Linked DNA regions of Homo sapiens: regions 1 and 3 are each reported to be linked to region 2. Evidence: microRNA targets listed by miRTarBase, many of them from high-throughput screens and not tested one by one. Region 2 holds a microRNA gene; each other region holds the end of a gene's coding sequence.
The links. The annotated mature microRNA hsa-miR-3162-5p reads UUAGGGAGUAGAAGGGUGGGGAG and lies in region 2 at 1,744-1,766, shown strand. An mRNA with a match to its seed (bases 2 to 7 or 8) in the 3' UTR can be bound and repressed. Matches are read on the target gene's strand: a 7mer-m8 pairs with bases 2 to 8, a 7mer-A1 pairs with bases 2 to 7 and ends in A, and an 8mer does both.

Region 1 (3,098 bases), not on the chromosome of region 2:
TCCTCCTATTACAGTGACAGGTGATAGGGCTGGGTAGGCTTGGGGCCTGAGCTCTGACTAGCCCAACCCTCCCCCAACCCCTTCCTGGTGCCACAGCTATTGAGCCGCTGGATGACATCGCAGCGGTGACAGACATCCTGACCCAGCGGGAGGGCGCAAGGCTGGAGACACCCCCACCCTGGCTGGCAATGTTTACAGACCAGCCTGCCCTGCCTAACCCCTGCTCGCCTGCCTCAGTGGCCCCAGCCCCAGACTGGACCCACCCCCTGCCCTGGGGGAGACCCCGAACCTTTTCCCTGGATGCTGTCCCCCCAGACCACTCCCCTAGGGCTCGCTCGGTTGCCCCCCTCCCACCTCAGCGATCCCCACGGACCAGAGGCCTCTGCAGCAAAGGCCAACCTCGCACTTGGCTCCAGTCACCAGTGTGAGAGAGAAAGGTGCTGGCATAGGATCTGCCCAGAAGAGAAAATGACCCATGCGCAGTTGGGCTCTGGATACGGCGCTGTCTATAGCAAGTTGGCCAGTCTGGCCTCCTGTTCCTCTGCTGGACCTGGGGTAGGCTGCAGGGGTGGGCAGAAGCCCCTCTTAAATTGTGGTTGCCATGGTACCGAGGGACTCATTCCTGGGGCTCGCTGGGACCTCCCTAAACCCTTCCTGGAAGAAAACTGGAACCAACTCTGCCCTACCTCCCTGCACTAACCAGCTTTGAGGATGGCACTGAAGAACCCTTGGAGCAAACATACCTCCCTTGTGACTCCCACATCAACCATTAAAGTTATTTAACAGCAGCCTTCACCTGGCTCCTGAGGACAGGGTGCCTCTCTCTGCCTGGTCTAGACCTGCCTCACATCATCCCTGGAGCATAGTTCACCAGCTGTGAAACATGACTGTGATACTGAGTAATCAGACAAAGGCTGGGTGGAGCGGGTACTTTATGAATACCACAGGGACAAAGGAAGGCTGCTCTTCTCACACACTGCTGAATCTCCGGATCTCCGCAAGGTCATAGCCAGTCACAGCAAAGGAGTTGCCTGAGGAATCACAAAATCGAGCACCACACAGCTGGGTGTCGGCGACACACTCACCATGACAGTGTTCCACCTGGGGGAGCAGAGGGCTCGTCAGGGCCTGCTGCCCCATGCTTGGGCCCCCCCATTCCACCCACCCCATGACACATACCTCAATGTAGCCACTCTCTGGGTTTCTGCTCAGCTTCCAGATATGCACAAAGGTGTCCTCACCTGCAGAGAGTAGCTGTGGAGGAGGAAGAGGGGGAGTCAGAATGCCCTGACGGGACAGCTATAAGCTGGAATCCCCAGTCCAGGTGCCCCAGGGGAGGGGGCTACACTGAGTTGCAAAGACAAGCCTGTGGTGTTCTCTCAACATTCCACTGCCAGGAAAAAGGGTATGTAGGTACAGAGGAGGAGACTTACCTTGCCCACCTCAGAAGCCAGGTCCAGGGCGCAGATGGCCCGGGCATGGGCATTGATCTGGACATGTAGATTTCCTGTAGTGGCCTCATATAGATGCACTTGTCCGTTCCCATAGCCTGCTGCTATGATCCCCTGCCACAGCTGCACAGAGGGGCACGGAACTCTGCAAGGGTGACACCCAACTTTGTTTTGCCCAGATCAAATCCTACTCCCCAGCCTGAAGCTATCTCAGGAAGCCCTCTACCCTTTCTGCCTCACCTACCCAAATCCTGGAATGCGGGTCAATAATGTGAATTCTGGCCCTGACCGCCAGACACACAGCAAGCCTGAGTCATCTGCCGTCACCATGTCAGCCACACAATCCTGAAGGGAAAGGCAAGATCAACCCTTCCCTTTCTCCCCTGCTATGGTCCTGTATACAGGGCAGGAGGGGAAGGGAGGCAGTGTGTGCATCTTTGCCTCTCCAGGGAAAGGGCAAGGTGTGGAGCTCTCACTAGCTAGACCCATCAGAAACCACCCCTACCACCAGGGTTCCCTTGGGAAGCATGAACTGCTTTCCTTGAATTTCTTCATGGAGTCCCATCCCCCAATAACATTAGGAGGGGGTGCATAATTGCCTCACTGGATGGATGATAAAACTGAGGCCACAGTGTCGTGACCTTCTGGAGGTCTCGTAGTGAACCAGTCACAGTCATGACTAGACCCTGGGCCCCTGCACCCCCAACACCAGGCAGCCAACACAACCTATGGGCCTAGCCCTATGCCAGGTACAATGGAGAATATGAATAAGAAAATATACACCCTGTTCTCAAGAGGTTTGCAAATTACTTGGGGAGACAAGAGTTGTCTTTTGAGGGCAGTGCCAATTCAGGTTTCAGCTAAGAGACATCAGTGGGAGCTAGAATATGGGGAAGGCTTCCTGGAGAGGATGGATGGCACTGGAGCTGGGCCTGAATAGGTGGGACTTGCCCTAGAGAAGGAAGCTGCACATTTCAGAGCTGGAAAGTATCTTAGAAACCATTTGTTCCAACTCCTCATTTCACATCAGTATTATAAAGTCTTAATTAACTATAAAATACTACATAAATGTAAAGTATCTCTGGCTTTATCACTGAACCTGGTTGCTGAAGACTAGGAAAATGTAGATTTGCCCAAAGCCATCCACCTGTTTAGTGGCAGAGCCAAGACTCAAAGCCAGGTCCCCTGCCTCCCAGGGTGGGGAAGGCTCCCAGATGGGTAGGGGAAGTCCACTCACCTGTCCCTGGGCAGGCTCGGTGGCAATGTCTGTGATTGGCATCTGGTGCCCAGCCAGCTCCTCGCTCAGTACAATGTTGGGACCCTTTGCTGGGATGTCAAACACCAGCACCCGGCCTGACCACGTTCCTGTATCCAGAACCAGTACTCCAGTGATGACTTCCTGACCCTCCTGGGTCTCCAGCCACCATACTCAACACTTACTCCATCCCAGAAACCTTAGTAACAAAACCCCCTCTCACTGCTCCAACGGCCATGCCCCTTCATTCACTAGCCTTGTCTTATCCCACCCTGACCCTCTGAACCCTTCCATGGTTTACTGGAGTCTCTGATTCCACTCCACTTCCACCCTTCCCTCTAACTTTCCACAATTTCCTCAGGCCCTCATTATTCTCCTGGCCACAGCCCACA
Region 2 (3,000 bases):
TTTCAGGCTTCCGTGGCTACTGGAGTCTGGCTGGGCTTCACTAATGCAAGATACCAGTAGGAGGTTATAGCCGTGGGAAGTCTCTCCCTCTATGCCCTCTTGAGTGGTGCTCTGGCGCACCTACGTGGCTCTAGTTTTCACTGGAGAGGCCTCCCCTGCCTTGATGTTTTACATTCTCCTGATCCTCCTCTCTTGGACCCCCACCTCTAGGCTGTAGTAATACTGCTGCTTCTCCCCATCTCTCCACCCTACCAATGGTTATGGCTTCCTGTTGCTGCTAATCTCTGGGTTGTCTTTTTTTTTTTTGGGTGCCTAATTTTTCATCAGCTGTATAGCTCCCTGCTTCCTTCTACTTTAAATACTCAGACTCATTTCTTTCCCTGTTTGGCTTTTGAGTAATAAAATGACCATTATAAGAAGCTTGGCACTTTTGGAGAAACTGGTTGTTGATGGGCAAGGCTGTGTGTGTGTGAAAAGCAGTGATAGCAATGTGCTGATTCTAGTCCCATGCACTGCTGGTATGTCTAGTACCACCAGTGGAGTACACTGCCTGTCCCCAGTTTTCCTCAAAATGTATGGAAATGTTACTTCGTATTGTCTAAATTCTGCCACGGACAGATTTTATTGGGTGTAGTTAATAAGTGCCCTCTTTAAAAAGAATCGAGGATTATGGCTTTTGCAGCGCGCCACCCCTCAGTGTGCATTTGTGTCATCATACTGCTTGTCTTTCAGTGTAGGGAAGAGGGCTCTGGGGTATGGCACACTGTTTTGGTGGGTCCTATTTCTCAAAGGATGAGTGTTGTTGGCTCTGTGGCTCTGTGTTCACTGGAAAATGTTCACAGAGAAACATTTGGGATATTTCTCAGAGAAAAAGCAGGCTCTAGTTTATGAATTTTATTTATTTATTTATTTATTTATTTATTTATTTATTTATTTATTTATTTATTTTTAGACAGAGTCTCGCTCTGTTGCCCAGGCTGGAGTGCAGTGGCATGATCTTGGCTCACTGCAACTTCTGCTTCCTGGGCTCAAGCCATCATCCCACCTCAGCCTCCCAAGTAACTGAGACTACAGGTGCACGCCACCACACCGTGCTAATTTTTGTGTTTTTTTTTTATAGAGATGGTGTTTTGCCATGTTTCCCAGGCTGGTCTCAAACTGCTGAGCACAAGCAATCCGCTTGCCTCAGCCTCTCAAAGTGCTAGGATTGTAAGCATGAGCCACCACACGTGGCCAAGTTTATTACTTTTAAAAATGTATGAATGTATAGAAACAAACTGAAAATGTTAATAGTGGTGATCTCATTTCAAGAAAATTTTTTCCTTGATACTTTGTTTTCAAAGTTTTTTACAGTTAAAAATTATACGATATTAATTTCATGATTGAGCGGGCGGTGGGGGGATAGCAAATATTAGGGTAATATGTAGCTCAGAGATTGGTGGGTAGAAGGGTGAACAAAAATGCCAAAAGAGATGGAACATCAGAAAGAAAAGTGTTGTGTTTTTTTTGTTTGTTTAAGTAAAGCGTTGCTTAAGGCCAGAACCATTCACTAAAAGGGAATTTTTTCTTTCTTCTTTTGTTCTCTGGACTTAGAACTCAGGCTAATAATATTTAGACTTGTTCATCTATATTGTTAATTAAATAAGCTTTATGGACTAACTTGGGAACCTGACTTGTTTTATAGTGAATTTTTACATAGTAAAATCATTTAAAATTTCAAAGTTAATTTTGAAGCTGACTTTTTTAGGGAGTAGAAGGGTGGGGAGCATGAACAATGTTTCTCACTCCCTACCCCTCCACTCCCCAAAAAAGTCAGCTTCTCTTGTTAACTTCTCTCTATCCAGTGGGTAGCATAGGGTCTGGCACACATGGGTACTCAATAAATATTTGTGGAATGAGTAAGTGAATAAATGAATGAATGAACATCTCCCCCAACAGAAGCCCCCAATTCCTGGCACACACACATAAACACACACATGCTTGCTTTATCCAGTACTTGGTCGCCTTAAGCTGGCTTCAGAATTAGAAAGGTAAGAGCATGCACAGCCCCCTCTCAACCCCCATCATGAGCACTTCACTCCCAGAAACACAATTATCCAGCCTCAGAGGAGAAATCAGAATCCTGGCCTGATGCAGAACTGAACTGAGATTTAGCAATTGTTTTGTCCAGGGTGGAAACTAACTTTTATAACTAGTCAGGATATAGCTGTACTTATAATTTACTACTGTTTCTTTCATTCTCCAAGAATTTTAAATACCTGATTTCCTCTCTGGGTATACTTGTGCTAAAATACATTGCATTTCTTTTTTAAAAAACTTATTCATCCAACACCTATTTGATGATAGTCTTCTGTGGGCCAGTCACTGATGGATCTTGGGTATGTAGCACTCAACAGAAGAGGCATGGTTCCCATCTCAAAGAGCTTACAGTTAGTGAAATGAAAACAGTGATTTCTGCCACTCACAGACATGAACAGTTGACAAGGAGAATGGGTTGTTTGCGGGTTAAATATTAGAGCCGCTCTACTGAGCAAAGCCCTCTTTTCCCAGTGATTTATTTCCTAAACTGCAAAAAAAATTAAACTGTCTCTTATAGATGAGTGAGCATAGTTTTTATATCTGTTCTTCTCCTTACAGGTAAACTTTAATGAGCCCTTGTCCATGCTTCAGCGCCTTACTGAAGATCTGGAATACCATGAGCTGTTAGACCGAGCTGCAAAATGTGAGAATTCTCTAGAACAGCTCTGTTATGTTGCAGCTTTCACCGTGTCCTCCTACTCCACTACTGTCTTCCGCACCAGTAAGCCATTCAACCCACTGCTTGGGGAGACCTTTGAGCTGGACCGATTAGAGGAGAATGGGTACCGATCCCTCTGTGAACAGGTAAAGGAACCTCAGAACCATAACGCATTTCCTTTCTGAAGAAAGAGATGATTTTTTGGTTAATCCCCTGGGTCTTATGTTTGCAGAAATTCTAGTCCCTGTCATCCCAGCTTTTAT
Region 3 (3,098 bases), not on the chromosome of region 2:
TGTTAAGACTCATTTGATTTGGGGGGAATTATTGGGGACAAGACTTTTAAACTGCCTCCATAGGCCTGTAAGCAATATAGATAGCTAAAATAATTGACTTTTTAAAAACTTGATAAAAAATATTTCAGTATATATTTTAAAACATTATTATTAAAAAAATACAGTGCCATTGTTAAAACATTTTTATAATTATTGTTTATAAAATATCTAATCAGTTAAAATAACTGACTTTAAGAGTCTAATTGTGATATAGATAGCTATTTTAATAATTTTCATGTCACTATTAATATTTCCTTTCTAGTCAAATTGTGAATGGGAAACAGTGGTTTATGGGAAGACAGAAGACCAACTTATTATGACTGAACAAGCAAGAAGATATCTGAGTACTTACACAGCTACCAGTAGTACTTCAAGAGCTCTCATACTGTAATTGTTATTAAAATTGATGAAATGCCCCACTCCCTTACTGCAGTCTCTACTAAATTAGGTTGCAGTGAAATTTTTCTCAATTAGTTGTTTTTAAAGTTGTAAGATAGCCCTTTTAATACAGCATCTTTTTTCTATTCTATATAGTAGGCAGAAAGCTAGTAAGTCACTTAAGGGGTAGATAGTTTCATAGTTTATTTTTTAAGAGATGAGATTTTTAAAAATTGTTTTTAAAGAACAAGATGGGAAAATAATAGAATGTTCATGGATTTCTAAAAGTAAATTCTCATATATTTTCTTCACAAGATATATGTTGCTACTCTCTTGATGCTGCAGTTTTGTTATAGATAGGTGTATGAGTATATATGATTTCTGAAATTAGTCTATGTATGGAAAGCACACATGATTTTATGAAGTACTTTTGCCCATGTGCTGATTTACTTAGGCTACCATTTACAAAGAAACACATTGAAAAGGAATTTAAAGGAAGGATAGAAAGTTGCACTACTAATTTTTTGTTTTTTTTTTCAGAAGCAGTAAAATTAACTACAGTGTTAAATGTATTTATTTGAGCATAGTACTGAAAACAAAAAGCATTCAAAAAAGAGTTTTTTCTTTATTAGTAAATAGTATTTTCTTAATCTCAGAGGAGCTGAGAGTTTTGTTGAATGTATTGTACAGTATGTAGGAGCAGGAGAACTTTGTAAATTGGAAAGAAGTCTGTTTTTATAATTTATTTTTATTTTTAAAGCTTAAATGTAGATATTTATACGTATACAGGGTGCCTAGAAGCCAATGTTGTTTCCTGTTATTACAGCTAACACAGTAAAGAATAATTTTGACTTTAAGTATGAAACAGTAGTAAGTTATAGCTGCAAAGAATACAATATCTATACTGTATGTCACATCTACCTAAATGTTGCACTATGCCCTTTAAATCATGCTGGTTATAAAGTAGTTCTAAAAATGTACTAAATAATAATTTAATATTTTCTTTTTAAATTATATCGGGGGTGGTCATATACATTAATCTGGTGATTTGTATATGTGTTTGAAATTTTTGCATTTTGTTTAAAAAATAATATGGTACCTTGGTCCCTAAAAACAGTCTGCACTTAGAAGTTTATATTTACTCAGTGTTTCAGAAGTGGAGAACATTATCTTTTATTTATAAAAATATTTTGTCCTTTTTTAAATGTTTTGTGTTTCTCTACAGGTTACAACAGTTGCTTCAGTTGCCTGTTTTAGGTGTTTGCACTTATTTTATTTCTTCTTGAAAGAATTTTTATTTGCTTTTGTGGTAGAGATTATATGTAATTTTTTTTCAGTCATATAATGGTGTGCTGTCAACTTAAACACTGACAGGTAAATAGAATTGTACACTGTAGTTTGAATTATTTATAATTGACACACTCTCTCCCTCTCCACTCCTGAAGTATGCTGCTATAGAAAATAGCAGAATCGGCTTGCTGCTACGAGAGAAGGAAAGAGCGACCACCACTTGCACTGTGTGAAAAGATAAAAAACAAATGATGGCAAGTTCTCAAGTTAACTAAATGGAATCAACCATTACCAGGCAAATTCTTGCAAATACCAAAATACTACTATGCCTTATAAAACAAAATGAAAGCAGGTTAAGATTTTCTGCTCTGTTTGTATGTTAATAGAAATGGAAATACTAAGTATTTTAATGCTTAGCTCTTGAACAGTAGACCTAAAAGGGTTTTAAGCTATTTAAATCTACTTGCTAGTTTTTGCATATTTTATATATATATATATTTATATATATATATAGTGAGAAGTGAAGAAAATGTATGGTACTAAGATTATGCCTTATTGATAAATAGATAAACCAATTTGAATCCTCTTAGCATGTTTAAGTATGTTGATTGCTTTCTAATTAATGAACTTCTCACAGAAATTTCACTTAGTGAAACCAATGATTGTAGCAAACTCATACTGGATCATTTCAGTTACCTTGAACTAATAGCACATAATGGTTTTTTGTTGTTGTTGTTTTTAATGTAGCCCTTACCTGGATATACATAGTCTGCAATCACCAAAGTATAATATCTTGTAAGGCTATATTTTTTAAAGCATATTTTTTCTTGAGCATTAAATTATCCTAAATGGTAATATATTGTGGATAAGTCTGGGCTTATTGGACATAATACATATTTGGGTTGGTACTGGTTGAATCCTTCAGTTAACTGCTTTGTTGCTTTTTGCAAGATTTTTTATCTTAAACATGTCAGGCATCTTAAGTCACCTTTATACTGTTTTGTTCCTCTGAGTTTCTTTCAGTATGTTATACAAATGCCAGACATAACATGTAGCAGCCATACTTGCATGGAAACTGACTACACATACATAATACTGCATTTTATTGTAAGGTTTTCACATTAATACAGCAATTACCCTGACTAAATTGAGTTTTGTGATATATGGAAAACTTCATTGTAAGAGAATCTTGCATACAATGTTGACATATTAACATCCAAAATAAAGCATCTGTGTACAAGCTGACTTGGCATTGCTCATTCACTTGGTTTTGTGCTTTATAAGGACTGATAGAATCCTTAGAGACTTAACATTCTGTTCTTAGGCCTTTTTTCTCATTTAGAACTCTCTTTACGGTGATTTTACCAATAAATACAACATTGCGCCTTTAT

Region 1: miRTarBase lists RTKN as a target of hsa-miR-3162-5p. Seed matches in the 3' UTR shown: 8mer at 640-647.
Region 3: the mRNA of MYBL1 is a reported target of hsa-miR-3162-5p. Seed matches in the 3' UTR shown: 7mer-A1 at 1,522-1,528.

Annotation. Positions count from the first base shown.
Region 1 is chr2:74,423,573-74,426,670 of GRCh38, reverse strand. It overlaps RTKN (rhotekin), which reads left to right. Exons shown (of 12, transcript NM_001015055.2): 12 at 97-836. The coding sequence ends at 428. It overlaps WDR54 (WD repeat domain 54), which reads right to left. Exons shown (of 10, transcript NM_032118.4): 6 at 2,689-2,816; 7 at 1,696-1,796; 8 at 1,434-1,596; 9 at 1,180-1,254; 10 at 916-1,101. The coding sequence ends at 970. Among named protein-coding and RNA genes, the nearest start is that of WDR54, 3.4 kb to the right of the region's middle. RefSeq lists an enhancer at 1-231.
Region 2 is chr11:59,593,893-59,596,892 of GRCh38, reverse strand. MIR3162 (microRNA 3162) reads left to right here and starts at 1,735; the gene lies at 1,735-1,816. It overlaps OSBP (oxysterol binding protein), which reads left to right. Exons shown (of 14, transcript NM_002556.3): 8 at 2,638-2,883.
Region 3 is chr8:66,562,029-66,565,126 of GRCh38, reverse strand. MYBL1 (MYB proto-oncogene like 1) reads left to right here. Exons shown (of 16, transcript NM_001080416.4): 16 at 302-2,952. The coding sequence ends at 430. Among named protein-coding and RNA genes, the nearest start is that of MYBL1, 50 kb to the left of the region's middle.